Linked DNA regions of Homo sapiens: all the other regions are linked to region 3. The links come from fine-mapping of genetic effects on gene expression. Tissue or cell type: whole blood. Region 3 holds a variant in brackets; each other region holds the start of a gene. Each region is shown on its reference strand, or each on the opposite one.

The links. PIP is the estimated chance that this variant, and not a neighbour inherited with it, causes the effect. A credible set is the group of variants that fine-mapping cannot tell apart.
Region 1: TMEM92 starts here. The variant in region 3 is fine-mapped to the expression of TMEM92 in whole blood (TOPMed, PIP above 0.99).
Region 2: DHRS13 starts here. The variant in region 3 is fine-mapped to the expression of DHRS13 in whole blood (TOPMed, PIP 0.97).
Region 4: GAPT starts here. The variant in region 3 is the best candidate, but not a certain one, in a credible set for the expression of GAPT in whole blood (TOPMed, PIP 0.89).
Region 5: CD14 starts here. The variant in region 3 is fine-mapped to the expression of CD14 in whole blood (TOPMed, PIP 0.92).
Region 6: CSF1R starts here. The variant in region 3 is the best candidate, but not a certain one, in a credible set for the expression of CSF1R in whole blood (TOPMed, PIP 0.87).
Region 7: NECTIN1 starts here. The variant in region 3 is the best candidate, but not a certain one, in a credible set for the expression of NECTIN1 in whole blood (TOPMed, PIP 0.86).

The regions. Positions count from the first base shown.
Region 1 is chr17:50,272,668-50,276,667 of GRCh38, reverse strand. It overlaps TMEM92 (transmembrane protein 92), which reads right to left and starts at 2,202. Exons shown (of 5, transcript NM_153229.3): 1 at 2,098-2,202. The coding sequence starts at 2,166. RefSeq lists silencers at 1,826-2,120, 3,258-3,597.
Region 2 is chr17:28,901,111-28,905,185 of GRCh38, reverse strand. It overlaps DHRS13 (dehydrogenase/reductase 13), which reads left to right and starts at 2,107. Exons shown (of 5, transcript NM_144683.4): 1 at 2,107-2,368; 2 at 2,485-2,603; 3 at 3,570-3,693; 4 at 3,885-4,075. The coding sequence starts at 2,242. RefSeq lists silencers at 1,885-2,514, 3,016-3,208.
Region 3 is chr7:50,218,868-50,222,944 of GRCh38, reverse strand. No RefSeq gene overlaps it. Among named protein-coding and RNA genes, the nearest start is that of IKZF1, 84 kb to the left of the region's middle. The variant C/T (reference allele first, on the strand shown) is at 1,727.
Region 4 is chr5:58,489,292-58,493,368 of GRCh38, reverse strand. It overlaps GAPT (GRB2 binding adaptor protein, transmembrane), which reads right to left and starts at 1,934. Exons shown (of 3, transcript NM_001304431.2): 1 at 1,828-1,934.
Region 5 is chr5:140,630,829-140,634,905 of GRCh38, reverse strand. CD14 (CD14 molecule) reads left to right here and starts at 1,731. Exons shown (of 2, transcript NM_000591.4): 1 at 1,731-1,837; 2 at 1,926-3,174. The coding sequence starts at 1,835. The coding sequence ends at 3,050. It also overlaps a transcript of TMCO6 not described here. RefSeq lists enhancers at 2,087-2,586, 2,799-2,858, 2,587-3,088.
Region 6 is chr5:150,084,648-150,088,724 of GRCh38, reverse strand. CSF1R (colony stimulating factor 1 receptor) reads left to right here and starts at 2,171. Exons shown (of 21, transcript NM_001288705.3): 1 at 2,171-2,346. The coding sequence starts at 2,298. RefSeq lists an enhancer at 2,084-2,113 and a promoter at 1,866-2,298.
Region 7 is chr11:119,727,488-119,731,551 of GRCh38, reverse strand. NECTIN1 (nectin cell adhesion molecule 1) reads left to right here and starts at 2,352. Exons shown (of 6, transcript NM_002855.5): 1 at 2,352-3,077. The coding sequence starts at 2,999. It overlaps NECTIN1-DT (NECTIN1 divergent transcript), which reads right to left and starts at 1,969. Exons shown (of 4, transcript NR_120587.1): 1 at 1,746-1,969. RefSeq lists enhancers at 1,306-2,166, 2,167-3,028, 3,828-4,064 and silencers at 1,967-2,376, 2,437-2,756.

The DNA of each region.
Region 1 (4,000 bases), not on the chromosome of region 3:
GGGGAGGGATGTAGGTGCCAGAACATAGGAAATGGGTGGTGGGGAAGGGCATCTCTCACCCCACCCTAGCCTCCTGGGACAAACAACCAAGGCTAAAAAATAGGAAGCCAGCTTTGGCAAAACCACCGTTATCTTTATCTTTATACCTTTATAAAATATTTCAATTGCAAATCACAACAGTAAAGATAAGAATACCAGTGATAGCCAATAAGAGTTGGGGTAATTCCCCTTTTCCACGCTCAGTCCCAGGCTGAGTACCATCTCACAGGCTTTGTCCCCTTGTGGGGACAGGAACAGGAAGGAACCCCTGCAGGTTGGCCCAGAAAGGGTGAGTCTGTGAATCCAAATCACACAGCACACAGGAATGACTATAGAATTGGAGACAGGCTGGGTGCGGTGCCTCATCCCTGTAATCCTAAATACCTTGGGAGGCTGAGGTGGGTGGATTGCTTGAGGCCGGGAGTTTAAGACCAACCTGGCCAACATAGCGAGACCCTGTCTCTATTCTTTTTTCTTTTTTCTTTTTTTTTCTTTTTGGAGATGGAGTCTAGCTCTGTTGCCCAGGCTGGAGTGCAGTGGTGCGATCTCGGCTCACTGCAACCTCCGCCTCCCAGGTTCAAGTGATACTCCTGCCTCAGCCTCCCAAGTAGCTGGGATTACAGGCACGTGCCACCATGCCTGGCTAATTTTTGTATTGTTAGTAGAGATGGGGTTGTTGGTCAGGCTGGTCTGAAACTCCTGACCTCACGATCTGCCTGCCTCGGCCTCTCAAAGTGCTGGGATTACAGGCGTGAGCCACTGCGCCTGGCCTCTATTCTTTAAATTAAAAATATATATATACAGAGAGGGAACTTGGAGACAAATCGAGGGGTCCATCCAGGCACTCAACAGCACCCCTTCCCCCTCAGACCCCACTCTGGCCCTTGTCCTTTTCCTGGACCCCAGCTAATAAGTAATGGATAATTAACAGGTTTAGTAAATTAATCTCAAGTTCCGGTTTGGGAGGGGGAGGAGCTCTTCTCCCAGATTGTCTCCCCACATTTTAACCAGGGGGTAGTCTTGTCTGGGGTGGTTCAGAGGCTGAGTTTTATGGAGCGTCAGGGTGGTCTTGGGCTGGGAGTAAGTAAATCTCAGCTTACTTAACTCCAGAATTGAAGGTATTAACAGCACCTCGCCCCTGGGGTTGGTGGGAGGGGTAAACCAGAGGATGCCCAGCCCAGCATTGACACAAACTGACCGCCCAGTGATTTAGAAGGAACACCTTGCTCACTAACCCGGGTCCACGGAAGGGTTTTGGCAGAGCCTCTCTGAAAGCTCAGCCCAGATGTGTGAAGGTGCCCTGTTCTAAAATCCTAACTATGGAAGACCCTGACTTCCCTCCGGTTCTTAAATGGAAATAAGACACAAATGCATGTTCTAGACCCGTCTCTGTTCCCAGGATAAACACCCATCCCAGGACCGGACAGCTTTCCCCCATCACCTGTAGAGTTTACTTGGGAGGAACAGAAGGGCGGAGGGAACACTCGAACCCTACACCTCCCTCTCAAAATCACAGATTTCAGAGGTCACCCCAGCCTTGGTCAGGCAGCCAGGTCAAATCCCACCACAGGCTGGGATTACTTACCCCTAGAAGGGGACAAAAGAGCCTTCTCTCCCCTAGGGAACAAGCAGAGACACAGTCCCAAAGAGGGTGGGGACATCCCAGGGTCCCCCAGCACTGGAGGAACTGAGCTGGGGCTAAGTGCTGGCCCAGGTGTCCAAAGCTCAGGCGGGAAGGAGCTGGAAGGATAAGCTGAGGCTAATAAGGGGTCCAAAGTCCCTATTCACAGAGACGTGCTAGGTGTCAGATAAGGTGGTGGGTGGTGGCCACTTCCCACCACAGGATCCCCCTCAGAGGTGGGAGAACCCAGCCTCTCCCAGAGCCTCCTCCGCTGCCCCCACCTCCACCTCCACAGCAAAGAGAGAAAGGAAGTAGCTAACTGTGTGTGGTCAGGAGGAAATCCTGATTCTGGAAGGTGGCGACCAGGCTCCAGAAGCAGGCTCCTGACCTACAAGGGTAGGGCCCAAAAGTTCAACAACCTTACCTCCCAGTCTCACCTTTTGGGGGCCAGCCAGCAGGCTGAACAGCAAGGTGGGCGCGAGGCCGGGGACCCAAGCTTGGGACATCCTGGCTTGGGGGCCACTGAGCTTTCCTGTGTAGAGAAGGCGGGGCTGCGACCTCTCCCACTTCTCTCCACCTATGGGGCCCCGCCTCGGGATGGGGGCGGAGCTGCACCGGGAGAGGCGGACTCGGGGCAGGGAGGGGCTGGGAGGAGGAAGGGAGGAAGGGAGGCGCAGAGGTCTGGGTTGGGTTTTGGGATTTGGGAGGTAGAAGAGATTAACGGATTTTTAAAAAAGCGGTCCCGGGCGCGGTGGCTCACGCCTGTAATACCAGCACTTTGGGAGGATCACTTCAGGTCAGGAGTTCGAGACCAGCTTGGCCTACATGGTGAGACCCCCCGTCTCCACTAGAAATACAAAATTTAGCCGGGCGTGGTGGCGGGTGCCTGTAATCCCAACTACTCAGGAGCCTGAGGCAGGAGAATCGCTTGAACCCGGGAAGCAGAGGTTGCAGTGAGCCGAGATCGTGCCAGTGCACTCCAGCCTGGGCGACGGAGTGAGACTCCATCTCTAAATAAATAAATAAATAAATAAATAACCTAAATTTAAAAAGAGGTGGGATCAACTCCACACCGCTGAGCTGGGCCTTCCTAACTCCCAACTCCTCCACTCCTAAGTGCCCCAGACTCCAGGGAGGGGTGCCGGGACCGGCGGGAGTGGGAAGGGGACGTGGAAGCCCCTTCTTATCTGGACCTCTGGGTCTGGTGAGAAGTCAAATGGGGGCAGAGGTTGAGGGAGGGGAAGGCGAAGGTTCTAGGGTAGATTTTGAGGGGTTATGGTTGGGGGATATCACCCCATTGTGTTTTGACCAAAAAGGGAGGGACAGAGCAGCCTGGCTGATTTCAGAGTGCCCTGAGATTTCCAGGTCGAGGAAGGAAGACCAGGAGCACAACGTGGGTACCTTCGTGTCCCCTCCCCTCTTGAAATCCTACAGGAGGTGTTGGTGCATTTTCTCCCATTGACAAAACGGGAACTCAAGGCCCCAGGGTTTAGACTGCCCCGGGGTCCGCAGCTGGGGCTGGTCCTCTGCCAGGCCCGCCGGGGCGCGGGCGAGCAGGCCCATCCAGATTCCTGGAAAGACCCCGCGGAGGCCGCCCCAGTGCGGAGGGGCCTGATTCTGAGCCCCCTGCGGCCGCCGCCTCCAGCACTCCAGGCGCGGAGCTTCCGGGAGCGGCCGGCAGGTGGCAGCGTCGCCCAGCGCGGGTGCCCCCGGGAGCCGGGAGGGGCGCGGCCGGGGCTTGTGGGCTGGGGGCGCTGGGCGAGGGCGAGGCAGGAGCAGTGCAGCCAGGACCGCGGGAGGGGGAGAGGGGGTGATGGAGCGTGGGGCGCTGCTCCCTGGCCCGGCCAAGGGGGACCCTGAGAGGCTCAACGTCATGTCCTTGGGCGCCTCCTGCTGTGTCGCCAATCTGTCTTGACCCCTGAAAAACACCCCCGACGTCGTGGGCGTTTCTTCTCTTTCCTTGCTCTCTGCCTCTCACCCTTCTCCCTCATCTCTCCCAGTCATGTTCTCTGTCTTATATTTAACCCCTCTGTGTCTCTCCCCGTTTCTCCCAGCCTCTGTTTTTCTGTTTCGGTTTCTTCCCATCTGTCCGCACCCAGTTTCTCTCGAGTTCCCAGCCTTTCCCTCTGTTCTCCCGTCTGTTTCTCCTCTCTCTGTTCACCTCTGTCTGCCTCGGCGGAGGCGTCTGTTTTTCTCGGTTTCTCTGGTCCCTTCTCCTTGTCCCTGGTTTGGTCCTGCACCCCCAGTCTCTCGGTCTGTTTCTTATGCTGTCTCCCTGCTCTCTCTCTCCCTTTCCCTGTCTCTATTTCCCATTACCTCCTAGCCCTTTTTGCCCCTTAA
Region 2 (4,075 bases), not on the chromosome of region 3:
TCTAGCAGGTGGGGGGCCTTTTGAACAGGTCTCATTCCCATAGGGAAGTTTGGTAGGGGAGGTGTTGGAGAAAAGTGAGCCAGGGTGGGTGGATGACAATGGAATGACATGGGTGCGTCTGCTGGCCCGGGGGGAGCTGTTTCTCCAGAGAACCCTGACTGATAGTGGAATCTAGTCTTGACCTGTCACTTCTAGTCATGTGATCTGCAGTCACACTTCTCTACAACTGCTATTCCTCATCAAAAAACGAGTCTGCTGCATTACCTTAATTCTCAAGTCCCGGGGACCTTCATTAAACCAAATTCCATGCTTTCCTCCCAGATCTTAGTGAAAAACTCTCCAGGAAGTTTTCCTGAGGTCAGCCTCCTCAGATGGAGAGCACCTCTGTGTATATTCCAGCACTGTTTGTGTAGGTGCATCTGCTTGTGTGTCAGGATTTTGCCTTAGGGATAGAAAATGAATATTCTACCCCCAGCCTCATCCCACAGCATCTACAATGGAAACCCGAATCCGCAGTGCAGCTAAATAGGAAACTGGCCCTGGAATCTGAGGTCTGTCCCTGACTTTCATCTGCCCATGCAGGCGTCATCACTCTGCTCCCGGTGCCCTAATGGGCTTTTTGAACTCCCTAAGGACAGAAACTTGTATATCTTCCACTCGGAATTTCCAAGTCTAACTACACTGCTGGGCACACCATAAGTGCCAAATACCAGGTTCTAAATTGTACTGAATGTATCAGGCAACGGCCTTCTGCCCTGGAATGGTCTTACCCATTTGTTCCTAGCCAGCCCCACCCTTCCTGCCATCATGGTCACTTGTAATTGAGTGATGGAGCTTCTCTGCCTGTCTCTTATCACCTATGAGAACCATTCCAAAGGCAAATTTCCTCCTGAAAGGCAATAACAGATTTTACTCTCTATCTCTTCCTGCTTCCCTTCAGCCATGGAAGGCACTAGTGGGGTTGAGGTAGGGAGATACAGAGGGGGAATGAAGGAGTGAATTCTGACACCCCTTAACTGCCTGTGCCACCTTTAACAGTGTCCTCTCTAGCCTGTGTGGGGAGAACACGGAAGAATCCTAGAAGCTGGGGGCTGGATGTGAAGATAAGAAAACGAAGGATTTGGCCCAGTGCAGAGGCTCACACCTGTAATCCCAGCACTTTGAGAGGCTGAGGCAGGTGGGTCACTTAAGGTCAGAAGTTTGAGACCAACCTGGCCAACATAGTGAAAACCCTTCTCTACTAAAATACAAAAATTAGCCGGGTGTGGTGTCACACACCTGTGATCCCAGCTACTCTGGATTCTGAGGCAGGAGAATTGCTTGAACCCGGGAAGCGGAGGTTGCAGTGAGCCGGGATCACGCCACTGCACTCCAGCCTGGGCAACGAGAGTGAAACTCCGTCTCAAAAGAAAGAAAGAAAGGAAAGAAGGAAGGAAGGGAGGGAGGGAAGGAAGGAAGGAAGGAAGGGAGGAAGGAAGGAAGGGAAGGAAGGAAGGAAGGAAGGAAGGAAGGAAAGGAAAGGAAGGAAAGGAGAAGGATTTGTGCAGAAGGGAAGGAAGGAGAAGGATTTGTTCTTAGAGGGAAAAGCATCTAGGACTAGACTCAAAGACACACGTGTATTCATGTACACACCTAACTTCAGAAGGGAGGGACTGTGCTACATACACCTCGAGTAAACATATGGAGATATGCAAGCACATGCACTGGCAGAGACTACAGATGCAGGCACATACCTGGAGGGACTCTGCCAGAATGCACACAAACACCTACAAGGTGCTTACAGGAGCTCACACACAGGATCCAGAGGCACGCACACAACCCAAAGGGTGATCCTCAGGGACATGGGCACATACACACCTAGAGATCATTCACATACAAGCGTTGCAGATGCATGCACATACCTAGCGTGCACTCACAGGGTGTACGTGGACACACACACCCAGGAGTTCACACAGGCACACACCTAGGGGGCGCTCCCAGGGCCCAAGCGCACACACTCACCTCAAAGGTGTCCACAGAGGCACACGCCCCCAGGACGCCGACGCACGCCTAGGGGGCGCTCGCAGGGCCGGCGCGCACCCGCACGCGCACACGCCCCTGCCCAGCCTCCTGCCCGCCTCCGCCTTCGGAGGCTGACGCGCCCGGGCGCCGTTCCAGGCCTGTGCAGGGCGGATCGGCAGCCGCCTGGCGGCGATCCAGGGCGGTGCGGGGCCTGGGCGGGAGCCGGGAGGCGCGGCCGGCATGGAGGCGCTGCTGCTGGGCGCGGGGTTGCTGCTGGGCGCTTACGTGCTTGTCTACTACAACCTGGTGAAGGCCCCGCCGTGCGGCGGCATGGGCAACCTGCGGGGCCGCACGGCCGTGGTCACGGGTGAGTGCGGAGGCGGGTGAGTGCGAGCTGGCGGGGCGCGCGGAGAGGAGGCCGGGCCGGCGGTAGCAGCGGCCCGCCGGGCTCAGCTCAGCTCGGCTCCCGCCCGCGGTCCGCAGGCGCCAACAGCGGCATCGGAAAGATGACGGCGCTGGAGCTGGCGCGCCGGGGAGCGCGCGTGGTGCTGGCCTGCCGCAGCCAGGAGCGCGGGGAGGCGGCTGCCTTCGACCTCCGCCAGGTGAGAGGCAGCGGGGGCGCGTGGGACGGTGAGCCGAGAACCCGCCGGGACACAGAGAAGCCAGCAAAGGGGCTGCGGAGGATCCGGGTCCAGGGAGGAGAGCGCGGCGCGGGCGGCTGAGCGCGAAGAGGGAGTGCACGGAGCGCTGGGGTCACCCGAGGAAGGCGCACCAGAGCCGAGTGGGGGAGGGGCTTCCTGAAGGCCGTAATTGCAGTTCTGAGACGTTTAAGCATCAGTAGAAGTTGGGTTAATGATCAGTAGGAAAGGGAACAGCAGAGGGCACAGCATAAGCAAAGGCTCTGAGGCAAAGAGAGCTGGACTGATCTGAAAAACTGAGAAAAAGATTTAATGAGGCTGGAGCACAAAGTATGAGGAAGATGGGCAAATGAGGGGGCTGGAGAACATTCTAGAGCCTATTGAGAAGCTTGGATTTTATAGATTGGGCAGCAGAGACCAGTGGAGACCATGAACAGCCCTCAGTAGGCTCCGGACTGTCAGAATAGCCTTTGGAAGGAACTCCTTTGTGGCTGCGTGGTGCCTGGAGTGGGGGGGCAAGAGCGGGAGAGAGGAGACCAGTGAGAAGTTACAGATTTTAGGGTAAATGGTAATGGGGAAAGGAGGTGATAATAATAATAGCAAGTACCTACCCAGTGCTGCTAGAGTGTATTTTACACGTTAACTCCTTTCATCCTCACAAAAGCTCAGTGAGATTGGGACTGTTGTTATTATTATTCCCTTTACGCAGTGAGAGAACTGAGACCCAGAGAGATTAAGTATCTTGCCCAAGGTCACACTTTAGTAAAAGGCAAAGTCAGGATTTGAATCCACACACTTATCTAGTACACTCTAAGACACAGGGGCAGATTTTAGTAAACAGTAGGAGATGGACTCTCAGAATTTGGTGCCTGGGGAGAGGGAAGAGGAGAGAGATGCCTGGTGACAAGCCCAGCCCTTGCCTCTCCACAGGAGAGTGGGAACAATGAGGTCATCTTCATGGCCTTGGACTTGGCCAGTCTGGCCTCGGTGCGGGCCTTTGCCACTGCCTTTCTGAGCTCTGAGCCACGGTTGGACATCCTCATCCACAATGCCGGTGAGGGGCAGCAGGCCCTGCGTGGGGGTGGGGTGGCGGGTGGCCAGGGGCAACTGCCCCCTCCAGCGGGGGCCCTGCTGGGGCCAGTGGACACATGGGAAGGATGCCCCCTTCTCCCATCTCATAGATAGGGATGCCAAGGCTGCAGAGCTCCTTCTGGAGCAGCCGCTCACATTTAGCCTCTGCCCCAGGTATCAGTTCCTGTGGCCGGACCCGTGAGGCGTTTAACCTGCTGCTTCGGGTGAACCATATCGGTCCCTTTCTGCTGACACATCTGCTGCTGCCTTGCCTGAAGGCATGTGCCCCTAGCCGCGTGGTGGTGGTAGCCTCAGCTGCCCACTGTCGGGGACGTCTTGACTTCAAACGCCTGGACCGCCCAGTG
Region 3 (4,077 bases):
TATTTTATTCTTTTGAATGGTATTGTAAATGAAATTTTTAAAACAACGTTCAAATTGTTTATTGCTCATGTATAGATTTGCAACTGATTTTTGCATATTGGTGTCATATCCTACAACCTTGCTGAACACATTTATTAATTCTATTTTTTTAGTGTGCTCTGTAGCATATTCTATATATAAGATCATGTCATCTGGAAATAAATATAGTTCTACTTCTTCTTTTCCAGTCGAAAAGCCTTTTATTTCCTTTGCCTGACTAATTTCTCTGGCTGGAACTTCCAGTACAATGTGGAATAGAAGCAGTGAGAATGAATATCTTTGTCTTATTCCTGATCTTAGGGGAAAACAATAAGTCATTTTCTATTAAATTAGCTGTGGATGTTTCATAGATGTCTTTTATTAGGCTCAGGAAATTTCCATTTTTTTCATAGCTTTTTGAGTGTTTTTATCATGAAGGGGGTTAGATTTTTGTCAAATGTCTTTTCTGCATTAATTTAGAGGATCATATGGTTTTATCATTTATTCTGTTGATATGTTATTTTACATTAATTAATTTTCAGATATTAAACCAACCTTGAATTCCTGGAATAAGTTCCACTTGGTATGCATACACATGGTATACAGTTTGTGTTATATGTTACTGGATTTGGCTTGCTAGTATTTTGTTGAAGGTTTTTATATCTATATTAATATGATATATTGATTTGTTTTCTTGTGATATCTTTGGTATCAATAGGAAGTTAAGAATTTATAAGCGGCAAGGAGTAGGGGCAGATTGGAAGTATTCCAAGTCTCCTAACTAACTAGGGAAAATGTTTCAAGTCACACAACAGTGCAAAAAGAGCAAGAAAGAGTATACTATGTTTTCTGTTTATCTTTGACACTTACATTTAGGGCTTCCTTAATCTATTTTATCCCATTTGTGAGCTTACTTATTGAATTGGCTAAAGAGACAGGAACAAAGCTTTATAGCCATGAGAGAACTGCTGTAATCTTGGTATCATGGATGGAATGTGCCTTTGAATAGACTTGATTTCTCTTACCTCTTTGTTTCTCTATATTTAAGGGATGAGCTATGAAAAGCCTATTAAAAATAACATGAGCCAGTCTCATTATGCTTGGCTGAACTTAGATTCCAGTAAATGTTTGTGGATTCCTTTTCTAATCACTACATTAACTGGAATTAATAACTGAGAAACAAAATACTACTACTCCCAATTTTTTTTAAGTTGTGAGTGTATGGCATTATTCATTTCATCTCCTCCCAGCAACTTGTGTTTATGCACACACACACACACACACACTCCCCTGCCCCATGCAGGTATGAATATGTGTGTATATGCATCTCTGTGCTTATATGATTAAACATGACTCTACTTTTGAACATTCAGTGAAAATTAAGAAATAATTCATACAGATGATATAGGATGGCTTAAGCCTAAAGCTATCATTCTGGGTTAAAAGTAAAATAGTACATGCAAATGAATTTCCTATCATAAGTTTCTTATTTCCAATTTTCACAGCAGCTCTGACATAGGTTTGAGGGCTGACATTTCATCCTTGGCTGTGCAAAGTTCCCAGATCATGACGGTTTGTTGCTGGGAGTCCAGAGCAGAACTGGAGGAAAGGTGCTTCCACTGCTTCTTCCCAGAGAGGGAGGGGCTGGGAGCTCCTTGCCACAGGCTGACCTCTGTCCCCTCCCTTGTTGAGCTGGTGGTTGCCCAGT[C/T]CCTGCAAGTGTTACCTCATTTCCTCTATTTGGAGGTCCTCCTCTACCTCTTCCCTAATTCATCTCCATGACGTGTCTCAAACTTTTTTGCATGAAGTTGTCACTAATTCACTTCACTCACTCGGATCACTCCTTTGGGCTCCTCTATCTTGAGATAGGTCAGATGCCATTTACAGAAGAAACTCCATCTCCAGCCACGTAATGAAGTAAAGAGATAGTCATAGGTGGTGCTTAGTCTCCCCACTGGGGTAAGAAAATGGAGGCTGGAGGAACCCACAGGGCAAGGATGCTGTCAGGGCAGGGGAGGCTGGGCACAAGTGTCCAAGAGCACAACAATCTCAATCTTGTTCAGGGAAAGTTGTCAGCTGTGGGAGTGGAAGTGGGGTAGGCAGGTGGTGATGGGATCCCAGTGGTAGATGGAGTGTAGACCCTGAGCATATTGGCTAAATGATGCCAAGCAGTATGGAACCACTTAAAAAAATGGTTCTTGGAGCCTTGCCACCTGGTAGGGTGTTCAGAAGCTGGACTTCAATATTGAAAGCAAGGCATTTGGAGGACTAAATGGAGACAGAAAAGGGCACTTAAAGTCCTTTCCATAGACTAGGGCATGCACAGGACAGGGAGAGTTGGTAATTGAGGCACAGAACAGGAGCTCCCTGGTTAGCCACGTAATAAGAGTGATGATATTAGGTTCTGCCTGTTGAATAGAGAGAAGGGGATGGTTGCAAAAGTTTAAGTAATTGCAACCTCAGTCAAAACAGATTCAGGAACTAACTGTGGGAGAGGCAGTGAGCATGTGGGTATGGGTGATCCCTTAACTGAATTGTAAGAAAGTAGTGGGAGAGATCCAGGGTGAGGAGGTTACAGTGCCATGCCAGGAAAGGAGACCTGCTGATTGGGCCACTCGGTAGTTAGGTGAGTAAGCCAGGTCAAGGGCTTACAATTTTTCAGAATAGAGAGGATCAATTTTGTAAGGGCATCTTGAAGTGATCACATTCTCAGAAACAAGCCCATGGTAGTCAAACTCACATGATGCCAAATTATAATCCAAAAATAATCCTTTTGTGAATTTACCATAAGAATCATTTCTTTCTATTGATATTGACATATGTGACCCAGGGTACCACTTCCAAATCAGTAACTATTAGGATATGATTGGAGCACAGGATGGTGAAAACTCCCAGAACACTTCTAGGTACTATTCAGGTCTCTTTAATGCCAGTGTGGGCCCAGTCCCAAATTTGACAAGCATCACTCATGGCTTTCTTCTCCTCCCTTTTCTAATTCAGATTCTTTCTACCACCACCCTCTCCTCAGGTCTGTCTCTATCATTGATGGCACTACTCTTTCTTCATTTGATTTATGTGTGGTCTTATTCTCTCTTGCTTTGATTTAGGAGATACTGCTTTTCTAAAGACCACCACAGAATGCCACTTTCTGCATTGCTTGAAAATTCTGGTAACTGAACTTAGAAGCTCATCTTAGGTGTAAGAACAAACTCTTTTAACTTCTCTCTGTGGGCCAAACAGGCAAAATGAGACAGCCTGTGTCCTTCCAACATTTTAGATCCTTAGTCATTCTGATGAATGAGTGGATGGAGAGATGGACGAAGAGCTCACAAACTCAGAAACAACCAGAGGTGTAACATCTACTAGTCTTTTTGTCTTTCATGAAATCTCACCTTCTCATTATTTTCCTTATCTGTTTGATTATCACAATTGAGCACTTATTCCTAAGCACTATTGCTTATTATGCCTCTTAGGGTTTCTACTCCAGAGACACACAGCCTCTTCCTGACCTGGGAATGTACCACCACTTGGTGCTGAATTGTGACCCCAAAGTGCTCAAGGACCCTCCCCAGGAAGGCAGAACACATGCTTAAACCTGGGACTCTTGAGAAAATGCACATTCTGATTCTGTACATCTGAAGTGGGGCACGAGGATCTGATTTCTACCAAGTTTCCAGGTGGCACAGGTGCCACTTGTTCCTGGACCTTGAGTAACAAGGCCCAAGTGGTAAAATCAAGGGCTTGGAGCTTAACTCTCCTGAGTTGGAATCCCATTTTCCTCCATTATCAGCTTCATGACCTTAGACAAATTCTTCAACTTCTCTGAGCCTCAGTTTTGTTTCTGAGCATGGGGTTGCCACTTGGTTGCCAGGTTCTTGTGAGGATGGAGGTCACGTATGTTCAGTGCCTCTGCCAGTGTGTGCCACCTACAGCCCTCACAAGGCCCTTCCCTTCAAGCCCCATCTGAGTCCCTCCTCCACCCAACGTCTGGCTTCTCTATCTGGAGGATCCTGGAAGGACAAGATACAGCTGTTCCCAGGGCCTTTTCTAAGGCATGCAGTC
Region 4 (4,077 bases), not on the chromosome of region 3:
GCTTTAAAATGGCAAGGAGACAAGAAGGGGAAGTGTTCAACTGGGCTGCATGTTCCATTGTGATTTTATCAACAAAACATTATTACTGTATATTTTCAGTCTAGACATAGACATAGATCCAACAGTGCCTGTGAAATGATTATTATCATCTATGGAATGTTATTATCATCAATAATGTTTAGTTAAGAGTTTCAGCTTTTAAAAACTGTTACAGGGATTATCTCATTTAATCCTATAGCTGCTATATGTAGTGGGTACTATTCATATCACCATTTTATAGATAAGAAGAGAGGCTTAAAGAAGTTAAGTAACTTCCTTACAACCAAAATGTGACTGAATGAGAATTCAGGTAAAAATTTCCCCAAAATATTATTTATCCAAATATCTGTAACATGCTACTAAGTGCATCAGTCAGAAAATTTGTATAGCTTGATTAGCTCTGAGGTTCTCGAAGGTTGGAAATCATATATTATTTACCTTTGTATTACCAACACCAGCATTAGACACAGAATGACTAATCTATTAGACATTTGTTAATGAATGAAGTAATCTCCTTATGGGATAATAATAGTAACAATGAGAAGAAAAATAGAAATTCACAAAGTGGTGCTCTGCTTTCAGTGAGTTTTCATGAAAAGTTTAATGGTAATGAACGTTCATAAATTTGTCCAAGGTTAGAATATATTAATATGCAAATATTTAATTTGACATTTCATAAAAGAAAATTAAATAAGATGTGCAGCTAATTTATACAATTTTTTGATAAAAATACAGGGACAAGCACCCCAGATGCAGAAACATTTTAATCTCCTTGGAATTTTTGGGAGTAATATTGAGGTTGAGAACTGTATGGTCCGCCACATAAGATTTACAATCTGCAGGGTCCCTCCTTTATAAGGCCAGCCGTGCTTGTGTTCAAGGACAAAAGTTTAGCCAAATGACTTTAATCATTAGGACCTCATTTCCTGTCTGAAACAGATGAGCACCAATTATCTGCAAGATATTTTATGGTATACATGGTTAATGATTTAAGAAGTTATTTGCCAGAATATTTGAAATAAATTTACAAAATACACTTTAAGTATTGATTGAAATTAATCAACTTTTTGAAAGATACTAGGCCTGCAACAGAAGTCACGGTGAGGGTTGAGGAAGGCTAACTATTGTCACTTCTGTAGCTGAGGATAAGGCAATAAATTACTCTCTTAATTTTTAAGAAGAAAAGGCATTTTTACCATCTATGTTATTCTATGTAGAGTAGAAATTCTGGTACATCCAAAATATTAAAATTGTTTGTCTAAGAGATATTTACCAAGATAAAGACAAGAAGACTTTTTACAGAAAAAGAAATGCATCATTTTCTTCGAAATAACATTAGAGGAAAAAACCTGTGAGACATGAACAAAGACCTACTATAATGAAAAACATATTTTAAACAATAACCATTCAAATATAGTTTAACACTTAAATAATGTTCACTTTGACCAGTTTGAAAGAAGACTCTGTTTTCATTTTGGAAAGCAGTTCCAACAGGTTACCTAACAATTTGACATTTTTCTTAAAATCGCAAATTGTTGAGAAACTTCAGGAATTTTCAAGTAAGAGAATGCCCTGCTGTTTGGAAACAAGGTAACAGCAAAGCATAATCATATTGTAAAGAAACATTAACATCACTCTCAGTTTGTAAATTGGGTTTCCCCCTTACAGCTACGTAAGGCATTTTTTTCTAAAAACTGTAGTAAGATAAAAATCATTGATTAATTAAAGACAAACTTGTTTCTTATAGTGTTTAATCATCCAAATACCTTAAATCAGGTTCTTACTTACCTCAAGATTGGTGTGTCAAGCTCTCTCTTTTGTTCTTTTGGTTATGTTTTAAACCTGCATTGGGTTAGAACTTGTTCCTCTTTTTCACTTTGGTGGGTTACTTCCTTCTTTCCCTCCTTCGTTCACGCTATTTAATACTTGCAAAGTTTCCTGGCTCTAGAGGAAGTCAGTATCAGATGCAGCAGAATTAAGATAAATGGCGTGAGGTTTTGAATAAGGAAGTCTGGCCCTTCATCTTTGTCAAGTAATAGTTTTTTAACTGTGTCAGAAAATAATACGTAAAGCCTACATGGTTTTTTATTTGGGCCATATTTGCAGTTCCCACTTTAATATCAATAAAAGTCACTTCACTTGTACTTTGATTTTTTAAAAAAAGAAATATTTTAATTGTAGTAACACATAGGTCTTGGGCTTTTATTATTATTATTATTATTTACTTGTGTTGCTAGACCAGTCCTCTCTTCAAATATTAATATTATGTACCAATGCTCCCAAGTTATAGCCATACAGGTCAAATCAGTGTCCCAATTTGGGTTTGGAAAATGTTAACGTTCTTTTAAATTTATAAATAGGAATTTCCTAAGGTATGTTTTGAGGCCCATTACCCCTGAGATATGCTAGCAGCTCTTCCATCAAGTAAATGTGGGGAATACTGCTTCCCTGGAGATTCATGGGTACATCAGCATGCTAAAGGCTCTCAGCAGTCTTACAGCCAGCAAACAAAATAAAACCAAATAAGAAAAAGAAATTGTTTAACTTTGCTTAATAATAGTAGTCAGTATGTTCCTAGCACTAAGTACTCCAAACCTTTTGTGTAATACTCAGCAAATCTTGGCAACAACCCTGTGAGGGAGAAAAACTGTTATTAGTCCTATTTTACAGAAGAGGAAACAGAAGCACACAGAATGATCACTTGCCCGACAGAGCCTGCAGTTTGCCCCCAGCACCTGTGTGCTAAACCACTGCACTGGCTGCCTTGCTAGATTGAGTAACATGTTTCCCACATAGATACGCTTACCAAGAGCATCTCTTGGAGTCCAACTCATGGGAACACACACAGTGGGAGATGCTGAATTAGACAAATTACAGATGAATTCGACAGATGAGATGACAAAGTAATGGAAAATTTGTCTTTTAAGTTGTCTTGGAACTTTTTGAACCACAGAGGATTAACTTTGCATAAGGTGGTTTTAAAAAAGAGGATTTAGTTACTGAAATAACTACTGGACATTGGAAGGACAGGACGTATTATTAACACTTGCTGAGCACTGACATTATGCCAGGCATTGTGCTAAGAGATGAGGATGCAAGAGTGAATAAGCTCCCTGCAGCACTTAAAGCCAAGTAGAGAGGCTGCTGCGCCCACAGAACATTTCAGATCAAAGTGATAATGCCTAAGAAAGACAGGATTATGGACAGGGACAGTGGAGGTAAAGGAAAGAGGCATCCAGCTCAGAGGGTGGTCAGGGAAGGCAAGACCTGAGCTAAGCCTCATAGAATAAGGTGTTAAGGCAGAATAGGGGTGTCCTGGACAAAAATCTTACAGTGAAGGAGGTTATGAAGTTGTGAAGCTATGAACTTGATGTGCTCCACATTCTCACCACTATATTTAACTTCAGTATTAGCCACCCCTCCAAATAATATACACACTCACCTGCCTAGGCATACATCTGTAAGAAAGGCAATTTATACAATGTTTGTATAAAATTATGATTTTCTCTAGAAGGCAGGACAACTGGTGCTCATTCAGCTTTTGCCCTTTGAAGTTAAAAAAGTTGCTTAACCCCTTATTACTTTAGTTTTTCTAACGGAAAATAAAATGGAGGGAAAATGACTGGCACTTTCCTCAAATAGAATTTTTTTGATGTAATGGATATAATTATTCTTCAAGTTTATAAAAGAAATGCTGTATATATTCAAAATAGAATTATTGGATCATTGTCATTTGTAGGGATTATGTTTTATGTCTTGAATTCTATATTTTCCTACTTCCCAATCTTTGGCCTCGCAAAATACATATTTATTGTCTCCTTTCAGTTCCTTTTTAATCACAGCAATTATGTCTAGGTTTTCTTTTCCTGCTTTTTCTTCTACAGTTATACGGTTTGGGTAGTAAAGGGCTTAGGAAGTAGTTTATTGTTCTGTAGTGTAATATGGACTGGATCTTTCATCTAAGTAAATCTTCCTCTCCTATTAATTGGTGATAGCAACCACTTTACTTAATTGTGATTTAAGTTCCCAGCAATTTCT
Region 5 (4,077 bases), not on the chromosome of region 3:
GAAGCTGAGGCAGGAGAATTGCTGGAACCTGGGAGGCGGAGATTGCAGTGAGCTGAGATCGCGCCCAGCCTGGGCAACAAGAACAAAACTCCGTCTCAAATAAATAAATAAAAGTAAAAAAGACTTTCAGGCCGGGTGTGGTGGCTCTCGCCTGTAATCCCAGCACTTTGAGAGGCCAAGGCGGGCGGATCACCTGAGGTCAGGAGTGCCTGGTCAACATAGTGAAACTCTGTCTCTACTAAAACTACAAAAATTAGCCGGGCATGGTGGTGGGCTCCTGTAATCCCAGCTACTCAGGAATCTGAGGCAAGAGAATTGCTTGAACTTGGGAGGCGGAGGTTGCAGTGAGCCAAGATCACGCCACTGCACTCCAGCCTGGGCAACAGAGCCAAACTCAGTCTCAAAAAAAAAAAAAAAAAAAAAGACTTTCATATAGTTCTTTCCCCAGAGGTCTAGGGATGTGGACCTGTGAGGGCTGTTGTAAATGCGTAGCTCCTTATTCTCTGGGACATTTGTTGTTTTTTTGTTTTGTTTTGTTTGCTGTTTTTTTCATTTTGTTTTGTTTTCTGTTTTTGTCTGTTTTTTGCGAAACTGGTGAGTTACTAATTAATCCTCATTCAACATAGTCCCATCCCTTCCTTCCTAGGGCACAGAGATTGTACTGAGGGGAGGGCAGGAGAGAGCAACGTGCAAGTGGGAAAACTGATTCAAAATACCTTGCTTCACAATTTCAGGACAGAAAATGGATAGTGTAAGTGACCCAGAGACTTGGCCAATGTGTCTCTGTTAAATACATCCACTTTTAAGAAAGTTAGTACTGCCAGGCACAGTGGCTCACGCCTGTAATCCCAGCACTTTGGGAGGCCGAGGCGGGTGGATCACAAGGTCAGGAGTTCAAGACCAGCCTGGCCAAGATGATGAAAACCTGTCTCTACTAAAAAATACAAAAATTAGCTGGGTGTGGTGGTGGGCACTTGTAATCCCAGCTACTCGGGAGGCTGAGGCAGAGAATTGCTTGAACCCAGGAGGCGGAGGTTGCAGTGAGCCGAGATCATGGCACTCTACTCCAGCCTGAGCAACAGAGCAAGACTCTATCTCAAAAAAAAAAAAAAAAAAGAAAGAAAGTTATTACTTAATCAAAGGAGCAAGGAAAAAAAAAGGAAGGGGGAATTTTTCTTTAGACCAACTTCCTTTTCTTGAACCTAATTCTACCCCCCTTGGTGCCAACAGATGAGGTTCACAATCTCTTCCACAAAACATGCAGTTAAATATCTGAGGATATTCAGGGACTTGGATTTGGTGGCAGGAGATCAACATAAACCAAGACAAGGAAGAAGTCAAAGAAATGAATCAAGTAGATTCTCTGGGATATAAGGTAGGGGGATTGGGGGGTTGGATAGTGCAGAGTATGGTACTGGCCTAAGGCACTGAGGATCATCCTTTTCCCACACCCACCAGAGAAGGCTTAGGCTCCCGAGTCAACAGGGCATTCACCGCCTGGGGCGCCTGAGTCATCAGGACACTGCCAGGAGACACAGAACCCTAGATGCCCTGCAGAATCCTTCCTGTTACGGTCCCCCTCCCTGAAACATCCTTCATTGCAATATTTCCAGGAAAGGAAGGGGGCTGGCTCGGAGGAAGAGAGGTGGGGAGGTGATCAGGGTTCACAGAGGAGGGAACTGAATGACATCCCAGGATTACATAAACTGTCAGAGGCAGCCGAAGAGTTCACAAGTGTGAAGCCTGGAAGCCGGCGGGTGCCGCTGTGTAGGAAAGAAGCTAAAGCACTTCCAGAGCCTGTCCGGAGCTCAGAGGTTCGGAAGACTTATCGACCATGGTGAGTGTAGGGTCTTGGGGTCGAACGCGTGCCACTCGGGAGCCACAGGGGTTGGATGGGGCCTCCTAGACCTCTGCTCTCTCCCCAGGAGCGCGCGTCCTGCTTGTTGCTGCTGCTGCTGCCGCTGGTGCACGTCTCTGCGACCACGCCAGAACCTTGTGAGCTGGACGATGAAGATTTCCGCTGCGTCTGCAACTTCTCCGAACCTCAGCCCGACTGGTCCGAAGCCTTCCAGTGTGTGTCTGCAGTAGAGGTGGAGATCCATGCCGGCGGTCTCAACCTAGAGCCGTTTCTAAAGCGCGTCGATGCGGACGCCGACCCGCGGCAGTATGCTGACACGGTCAAGGCTCTCCGCGTGCGGCGGCTCACAGTGGGAGCCGCACAGGTTCCTGCTCAGCTACTGGTAGGCGCCCTGCGTGTGCTAGCGTACTCCCGCCTCAAGGAACTGACGCTCGAGGACCTAAAGATAACCGGCACCATGCCTCCGCTGCCTCTGGAAGCCACAGGACTTGCACTTTCCAGCTTGCGCCTACGCAACGTGTCGTGGGCGACAGGGCGTTCTTGGCTCGCCGAGCTGCAGCAGTGGCTCAAGCCAGGCCTCAAGGTACTGAGCATTGCCCAAGCACACTCGCCTGCCTTTTCCTGCGAACAGGTTCGCGCCTTCCCGGCCCTTACCAGCCTAGACCTGTCTGACAATCCTGGACTGGGCGAACGCGGACTGATGGCGGCTCTCTGTCCCCACAAGTTCCCGGCCATCCAGAATCTAGCGCTGCGCAACACAGGAATGGAGACGCCCACAGGCGTGTGCGCCGCACTGGCGGCGGCAGGTGTGCAGCCCCACAGCCTAGACCTCAGCCACAACTCGCTGCGCGCCACCGTAAACCCTAGCGCTCCGAGATGCATGTGGTCCAGCGCCCTGAACTCCCTCAATCTGTCGTTCGCTGGGCTGGAACAGGTGCCTAAAGGACTGCCAGCCAAGCTCAGAGTGCTCGATCTCAGCTGCAACAGACTGAACAGGGCGCCGCAGCCTGACGAGCTGCCCGAGGTGGATAACCTGACACTGGACGGGAATCCCTTCCTGGTCCCTGGAACTGCCCTCCCCCACGAGGGCTCAATGAACTCCGGCGTGGTCCCAGCCTGTGCACGTTCGACCCTGTCGGTGGGGGTGTCGGGAACCCTGGTGCTGCTCCAAGGGGCCCGGGGCTTTGCCTAAGATCCAAGACAGAATAATGAATGGACTCAAACTGCCTTGGCTTCAGGGGAGTCCCGTCAGGACGTTGAGGACTTTTCGACCAATTCAACCCTTTGCCCCACCTTTATTAAAATCTTAAACAACGGGTCCGTGTCATTCATTTAACAGACCTTTATTGGATGTCTGCTATGTGCTGGGCACAGTGCTGGATGGGGAATTCATCATACTTAGGCTTTCTTCATCCTAACTCCCTAAGAAACCCTATCTGTCCTCCTCAAGAAAAGAACTGCGGGGATAGAAGGAGCCAGGAAAGGACTCCTGGCTAGGGCTGCATGGGAGAAACAATGAGTGTGCAGTCAGGGCTTTCTGAGCAGATTATTGGCATCTGGATTAAAAGGTATTTGCATGATATTTGGAAGATACAAAATATTTCCTCTCCTATGCACTTCCCAAGAGCCAGCTGCTCCCTTTCAAAGGTAATAAAACCCACAGCCATTTGCTTATTTCCTTATTCTTTCTCTCTCTCACACACACACACACTCACACACCCTCCCTCTCCCTCTCTGTCTGTCTCCCTTACCACTCAAGGAAGAGGGACAGCCTCCTATCCTGCACAAGCTCTGAGTTTCATAATATTAGGGTTCCTCTCTTGTAAAACCTCTCTTCACCCGGAGGCTTTCACTGTGTCACTCCCCGACATAATGGGAAATTTGGGCCTAGGGAACTGACGCAAGATACAGTCGGTCTCTGAATTAGAGATCCTGTGTTCTGTTAGAACACATATGCAGATAACCTTTTCAGGCTGACTGATTGGCAAATAGGAAAGCATCTCAGACTCTTCAAAACTTCAGAATAAACAGGATTTGTCCTCTAGTCCACATTAGCTCAGAGACCTACAGCATCAGCCATCAAGAGGTGCTGTTTCTTCTGAGCCCCTTCTTCATTTCAATGAGGAGGCAGCCACATCCATCAGAGAGCTAGATGCCTGCCTCACAGGGAGCATGGGAGAAAGGTGGGAGGAGGCATATAGGCCCAGCACCTGCCTCTG
Region 6 (4,077 bases), not on the chromosome of region 3:
CTGTCTCTACTAAAAATACAAAAATTAGCTGGGCATGGTGGCGCATGCCTGTAATCCCAGCTACTCGGGAGTTTGAGGCACGAGAATAGCTTGAACGCGGGAGGCAGAGGTTGCAGTGAGCCGAGATTGCTCCACTGCACTCCAGCCTGAGTGACAGAGTGAGACCCTGTCTCAAAAAAGAAAGAAAGAAAGAAAAAAAAAAAAAGATTTGGTTTGCTAGTACATTTTTGAAAATTTTTGCTTTCTATATTCATGCATTTGTATTGGTCTGTAGTTATCTTTTCTGGCAATGTCTTGGTCTAGCTTTGGTACCAGAAAAATGCTGGCTTCATAGAATGAGTTGAAAAGGATTGGTATTAATTCTTCTTTAAATGTTTGGGAGAATTCACCAGTGAAGCCATCTGGTCCTGGGCTTTGCTTTGTCGGGAGGTTTTTGATTACTGATTAAATTTCTTTTCTTGTTATAGGTTTATTTGGATTTTCTTTTTCTTCTTGAGTCAGCTTTGATTGACATTCATGATTGCTAAAGGTTCAAAACACTTTTCTGAAAAAGAAAGTACATATATACACTCATAAATATACATACAAACACACACATACACACCACACACACACCTGAGTACACGGGAATGATCATTTTCCTGGATCAATGTTATATCAGGATTTTTCAATTTCAAGAAGGAACTTTAGGCTGGGTATAGTGGCTCATACCTATAATCCCAGTACTTTGGGAAGCCAAGGTATGCGAATCACTTGAGCTCAGGGGTTTGAGACCAGCCTGGACAACATGGTGAAACCCCATGTCTACCAAAAATACAGAAATTTGCTAGGAATGGTGGCACATGCCCCTGTAGTCCCAACTACTCAGGAGGATGAGGTAGGAGGATGGCTTGAGTCCGGGAGGTGGAGGTTGCAGTGAGCCGAGATCACACTACTGCACTCCAGCCTGGGTGACAGAACCAAACCCTGTCTCAGAAAAAAAAAAAGAAAAAAAGAAGAAGAAATGACCATGTTCTTTAGAGATAAGAAGTAAAATACTAAGCGAATCAACTAAAAGAGGTAAAAGCAATTGCCTCCAGGAAAAGAGGGAGCAAAGGAATGCTATATATTTTAAGAATTATGCAGAACAATTAGATTCTTTGTAAAAATAAATAAACAATGTAAGTAACGCACAAAAGATAGTTTTATAACCAGACTGCTGGGATCCAAATCCTATCTCCACCATTTGGTAGCTGTTTGACTATGGACAAGCTTAAGGCATTTGATCTCTCTGAGCTTTAGTTTTCCCATCTGTGAAATGAGAATGACAATAGTACTTACCTACATAAAGTTTTGCAGTACTAAAGGAGACAGTGAATGTAAAAGGTTTGGCTAGTAAATGTCCTGTAAAAGGAAGCTTATTGCCAATATTATCAGGCTCTCCCAGACCAACCTGTATACAGGAAGAAAACAAACTCCGTTTCTCCTATAGTCTCACAACACAAAATACTTCTGACCCCAGATGTAGAGGATGGGGCATATTTCCCCATACACCAAGCAATCAACCAATTGTTCAGATTCTGCAGCAGACACGAATCTGGTGCCCTCCGATTCAATTTGAACACTATATTTACCTAGAGATAACGTCAGATCTCACAGCTTGAAGGCTTGAGCCAGGAGTTTGAGGCTGCAGTGAGCTATGATCGAGCCACAGAGCTCCAGCCTGGGCAACAGAGTGAAACTGCGTCTCTAAAATAATAATAATAAATTTTTAAAAGATATGCATTACTTTGGAGATTCCAAGGATTTTAGGAGTTGTAAGCCAGGACATCAGGGTAAAGAAAAAATATATATGTCACAATATCATGCAACCTAACTTCTCTTTGGGATCTGCCAGAGCCACCTGATCACTCTGAAGACCCTCATTTGTGCTACTGACTAACGGTCTGGCTGCTCTTGGACATGTCTCTTCTCCCAAGACCCCTTGAAGATGGCTTTAGAAGGGCCCCAAACTTAGCTAGCTCCCCCCAAGCTCAGGCTGGCCCTGCCCCAGACTGCGACCCCTCCCTCTTGGGTTCAAGGCTTTGTTTTCTTCTTAAAGACCCAAGATTTCCAAACTCTGTGGTTGCCTTGCCTAGCTAAAAGGGGAAGAAGAGGATCAGCCCAAGGAGGAGGAAGAGGAAAACAAGACAAACAGCCAGTGCAGAGGAGAGGAACGTGTGTCCAGTGTCCCGATCCCTGCGGAGCTAGTAGCTGAGAGCTCTGTGCCCTGGGCACCTTGCAGCCCTGCACCTGCCTGCCACTTCCCCACCGAGGCCATGGGCCCAGGAGTTCTGCTGCTCCTGCTGGTGGCCACAGCTTGGCATGGTAAGAGCAGAACGGGGGGTGGGGGACTTTGTTGGGGTGTGATGGAGAAGACCCCTGTGAAAGGATTCAGTCCTTGCCCCTCACTGGGTGTCCTCAGGCTGTTTTAGTCTCCCCAACACTGGACTGCAGGCTTGTGGGTATCTGCTTTGGAGAGGTAGTGGGGTGAAAAGAGATGGGTGTGGTGGAACTGGTCCACCTGGTGCTGTGGATCTGTCCCAGCTCTGCCAGCGACTCACTGTGTGTCCTGAGCAAGCCTCTGATACTCTTGAGGCTTCAGTGTCCACTTCTATTCAATTGCAGGTGTTGGGGGCAGGGGGACAGTGATAGACTAGACCAGAGCAGTGCTTTTCATACTTTCCTGTGCATACAAGTTACCTGAGGATTTTGTTACAATGCAGATTCAGACTCAGTCGGTCTCAGGTGCGACCTGAGATTCTGTATATCCAACACACTCCTGGGAGATGTGAGATGCCGGCACTGCTGGTCCAGACCTACACTGAGTTGGGAGGACCTGGAGAGCTCCTGATGGCTCTGGCAGCTCTGCCAGCCTGTGATTCGATGATTCTATGCAAGATCTGATTTGGAAGGGCCTGATAGGGGTGGTGGTTCTTCCTTGGGTGGCTTGTGTAAGGGGTCAGAGGGGAGAGACAAGAGGTTGGCCTCTCTGGCCCAGGGCTCAGGAGAGGGGAATTCGGGGTGAAATAGGTATAGGGCTAGAGGAGGGATTGGGAAGAGGCCAGTGAGGGTCTCCTGGACCAGAGCCCTCCCAGACACAGGCTGCCAAGTCTCAGGAGGTCCCCAGGCTGTAGCAGTTCTGCAGAATTTCCATCTGGGAGGGAACATGACTAGAGGTGAGGGGCTGCTGTGCTTGGCTTGTTGGCCCAACAAACACATTTCTATTGCCTGCTTATTCAAAGGGACCTTGGGGGAGGATGGGGATTGAAGGGGAGAAAGGACAGCCTCATACTGGCCTCTTCACAGAAGGACCCTAAGGCCGTGGCGCTTCTGGTCCCTGATGAGGAGGAGATGGCCCACTGACCATCCTTCTCTGGCCCAGGCAATCACACTGAGCTTGAGTATTTGGGTTTTTTTTTTTTTTTTCCTGAGACAGAGTCTCTCTCTGTCACCAGGCTGGAGTACAGTGGCACAATCTCGGCTCACTGCAACCTCCACCTCCCGGGTTCAAGTGTTTCTCCTGTCTCAGCCTCCCAAGCTGGGATTACAGGCATACACCATCATGACTGGCTAATTTTTGTATTTTTAGTAGAGATGGGATTTCACCATGTTGGCCAAGCTGGTCTCGAACTCCTGACCTCAGGTGATCCACCTGCCTTGGCCTCCCAAAGTGTTGGGATTACTGGTGTGAGTCACGGCGCCCGGCCTGGACTTCTTATTTTGCAATGTAACTTACATGCAGTAGAAAGCACAGGTTCTTAAGTTCAATGAGGTCTGACAAATGCACACACAGTGTACCCGCCACCCCCTTCATCTCAGAGAGTCCCACAGGTTTGATTTCACTGCCTTGTCCTATCCTTACACCCACAACCTGCCTGTGGGGCAAAAACGGAAAAGTATCTGAGCCAGGTCTCAATTTAATTTTATTTTTTTTATTGAGATGGAGTCTTGTGGCCAGGCATGGTGGCTCACACCTGTAATCCCAGCACTCTGGGAGGCCGAGGCGGGTGGATCACAAGATCAGGAGTTTCAGACCAGCCTCGCCAATATGGTGAA
Region 7 (4,064 bases), not on the chromosome of region 3:
CTAAAGATGGAGAGAGTGCAGCCGGGTACAGTGGCTCATGCCTGTAATCCCAGCACTTTGGGACACCAAGGAGGGCAGGTCACCTGAGGTCAGGAGTTCCAGACCAGCCTGGCCAACATGGAGAAACCCCGTCTCTACTAAAAATACAAAAATTAGCCGGGCGTGGTGGCACACACCTGTAATTCCAGCTACTCGGGAGGCTGAGACAGGAGAAACACTTGAACCTGGGAGACAGAGGTTGCAGTGAGGTGAGATGGCGCCACTGCACTCCAGCCTGGGCAACAGAGCAAGACTCTGTCTCAATGAAATAAAATAAAATAAAATTAAATTAAATTAAAATAAAATAAAATAAAATAAAATAAATAAAATAAAATAAAATAAAATAAAATAAAGATGGAGAGGATGGGAGGGTAAGAGCAGGGAACAAGAAGACATTGGTACATCTGGGATTGCCCCTTCAAACCATGCCTTCAGCTCCTGCAGTGTGCCTGGCACAGAGCTAAAGGCCATCACAATGAATTCAATTCAACCCTGGCCCTTAAAGCACTCAGCAGCCAGATGGGAGATTCCCAGCTGCCACAAACTAAATCTGATAGCGTGTTCCCCAGTTTAAAACCCTCCTAGCAGCTACCGGGCATGATTCACGAATCTGCAGACCTCTCCTTTCCTCAAGTCTTAGGCTCAGGCTAAACCAGTCAACCCTTTGTGGGCCCCCTACTCACCTGACTATTGCTTACCTTCATTCCTTTGCTCGTGCTGACCCTCTACCTTAAATCCAGTCTCTTTTATGTCTCTGCCCTCCAGCACTTACCTTGGTCTGATAGATGACTCACCGAGACCCTGTGTTCGCTTCCCTGAAGCCTTTACACCAACCCCACCCCGGGCTAAACTGGGCACTTTTTCTGTGACCCACCAAACCCACACAATCCCATATTAAATATTTGTTTACGACATCCGTTTCTATGTCTGTCTTCCCCCACCCTTCAACTAGATTGAGTTCCTTCAGGACAATGATGATGTCTCTGTATCCCCAAGCCAGGCACTGTGTTTTGACACAAAGAAAGCCCAGGTTACATTTGTTAAATGTAAAAGACCATACAGTGAGTGGGTGAGTGTTCATGACAATGCCAGATCTGACTACTTCCGCGAGAAACCGAGACACTCCAGGGCCGGATTCCAGACAGTGGGAATATGGCGCTGTCTTTGCCCCTTCTCCAGTGAGGAACCAGAATTTACGTGTTATCAGAAACAGCCACTTCCCCTCTGCTCCTGCCCGCCTAGAGGGCTGGGCAAAGGGTAGAGGGAGCAGTGTCCGGCCAGGGTCTGGGGAGAATTCGGCTCTCCTTAGTGGGAAACTCTGTCTGTCTTCCTCCCCCAGGGGGAGGGGATGGGGATAGGAGGACCAGAGTAAGGGGAAGAGGGAAGGCCCGGAGGGCGCAGTCGCCTTGGCAGAAATCCTACCACACCCGGATGTAGTGGGTGGTGAACGGGATGGGGCGGAGAGTCCCTGCCCTGCCAGGGACACTGACTGGACGATCCACTTTCGCGGGAATCCCACAAATCTCTCAAAACTAAGGTCCTGGAAACTGGAGGAGAGCTCGTTTTCAGGCTATGTTTGGGCAAGGGCGGGGCGCGGGGTGCTTCAATTTTTGGAAAAGGAACCCCCGAAGGGAGCAGGGATTAGAAAAGAAACTCTACCAGAAACCTCAGTGGGCCCGTCTCACCCACTCATGCCCACCACTGACTTCTCTGGCAGCTCCCCGTCGCCCCGCGCACCGCTGCCTCTCCGTGGAACGTCCAAGTGGTGCAGAGGAGAGGGATCTCCGGAGACTGGGTTCTGTTGCGAGCTATGCCACGTTCCGTCCCGGGCGGAACTCTTCTTTGGGCCTTTGTTTCCTCGTCTGTGAAATGGGGCCAGGGTGGGAGCAGAGGGCTTGCAGAAGCCCTGCCAGCTCCCACGCTGCTAGCCGGGATTCTCCATCCCGCCCTCTCCTCCACCGCCGCCCCCGGCCCGGTCCTAACTCCACCCCCACCCGCCGCGCCTCGGCGCCGCCGGCCGCTAGGGGTCACTGCCTGCCTTTGTCAGCGGAGGAGGAGGGCAGCCCGCGCTCCAGCCGGCTCCCCAGCTGGAAGGCGGCCGAGGGGTAGCTCCCGAGCGAGGGTCCTGAGCCGGACCCCGCAGCCCGCGCTCGCGATCCGCCTCTGCTTCGGTCGGGAAGGCGCGTGCGCTCGGGCTCCGACCGGGCCCCGGCGGGCGCGCATCGAGGCCAGGAGGGGGTTAACGCTAACCCCTCCCCTCTGGCTGACATCACGGGCGAGCGGGTGAGAGGCTGGAGCTCGGCGAGTGAGAGAAAGAGAGCGAGAGCAGCGAGCGCGGCTCCACATTGTTGCGGATCGCCGGCACCCGGCAGAGCGGCGGCGGCTGGGACGCGCGGCGCCTCCGACCCGTTCTCCTCGCGCCCGGCCGCGCAGCCAGAGCCACCCGGGCCGCCGACCGCCGAGCCCCGCGCCCGCCGCCTGGGCCCCGAGCCTTCTGCGCCGCCCGGGTGCGTCCCGCCACCCTCGGAGGACGGCCGGCCATGGACGCCTGCAAGTTGGAGCCGAGCGGGAGGGTGTGAGCGGGCCGGGGCCAGGAGCCCGCGCCGCGCAACCGGGCAGCCGGGCGCGCCGGGGGTGGGTCCCTCTCCCCAGCCCCGCTCTGCGTGGAAGAAGAGGGCGGGGACCGGCGCCGGGAGGAGAGCGGAGGAGGCGAAGGGGCATGACTCGTGCAACTTGCGGCGGGCATCTGCCGAGCCTCTGAGCCGGCGGCGGCCCGGGGCCCGGACTGCGGCCGCGCGGATCCCACCCAGCCCACCCCGCCCCGGCCGACGGCTGCAGCTGACCTGGATCCTTCGAGCGCCCGCCGACCGCCAGCGATCTTCCCTCATCTTCCGGGCTGGTTTCTGCTGCGCGAGGAGCGCTGCCCTCGCCGCCCCTCTCGCCGGACCCCCGGCCCCCGATGGCTCGGATGGGGCTTGCGGGCGCCGCTGGACGCTGGTGGGGACTCGCTCTCGGCTTGACCGCATTCTTCCTCCCAGGTAAGAGCGCTCACCTCTGCTGTCCCCACCCCCATCCAATGCCTCCCCGGGGCTGGGAGCCGGATGGCGGGCACGACTGGATTGTGGGGAGTGAAAGGAGCCAGAAAAGTTGGGTCACGGCTTGGGTAAAGGGGGTGGGAGGTGGCACGGCGGAGAAAGAGGTTGAGAAGCCGAACCGCCTGCCCTGCAGGGAAGCAGTCAGATGCACGTCTCTATGTAGCATGAAAGCACTTTCTCCGCTCAGTTCTTTACAAAAAATAATAATATGTAATAGCGTTCTGTTTATTTAATAACCAGCTCTCTGCTCGGGAAGCAGTTTGGAAACACTGCGTGTTACATAAATGCAAAATAATCACCGTAATCACCGTCTTGGGGTGGGAGACAACAGCCCCAGGGGGAGGGCGTCAGTCTCGGAGCTGCGGGTTTGGAGTATGGCGGGGGGGCTTCGTCTCTTTCGGCGGCCCCTTTGCCAGACGGCTCAGGACGCTCGGGCCCCCTCCCGCCCCACACCGCCCCACAGCGGGCGCGGAGAGTCGGCTGCTGCGGCAGAGGCGGCTCCTCGCTCACCTGCGGTTCCTTTCCTGGAGGGTGAGGCCGGGGCAGCCTCCTCCCGGCCTGGCGCGGGACCGGGCTCCCCCTCGGAACTCTGCTCCCAGCTCTGGGGGCTCTCCCTGGAGGAGACACCGCGGGCTTCCTGCCATCCAAGTAGCTGCATGACCCACTTTCCCGAGGGTGCCCCGCGTGTCCTTCCTCGAGGTGCGGGCTGCCGGCAGCCGAGGGGTTAACCTCGCGCCCGACCCCGGGGTGGCCCTGGTGGCCCATTCTGACGGGTGGGGTGGGGACGGAGGCTGGGACCAGCCCAGGCATATTGTGCTGGGGAATGAACTGGAAAATGCGTTTAGGAGGCAAATCCGACCGAGTCCCCTCGCCTGGATTTAACCCTTTGTGTCCCTGGGGAAGCTGCCGAGCTCGCCGGCTGACTGGACA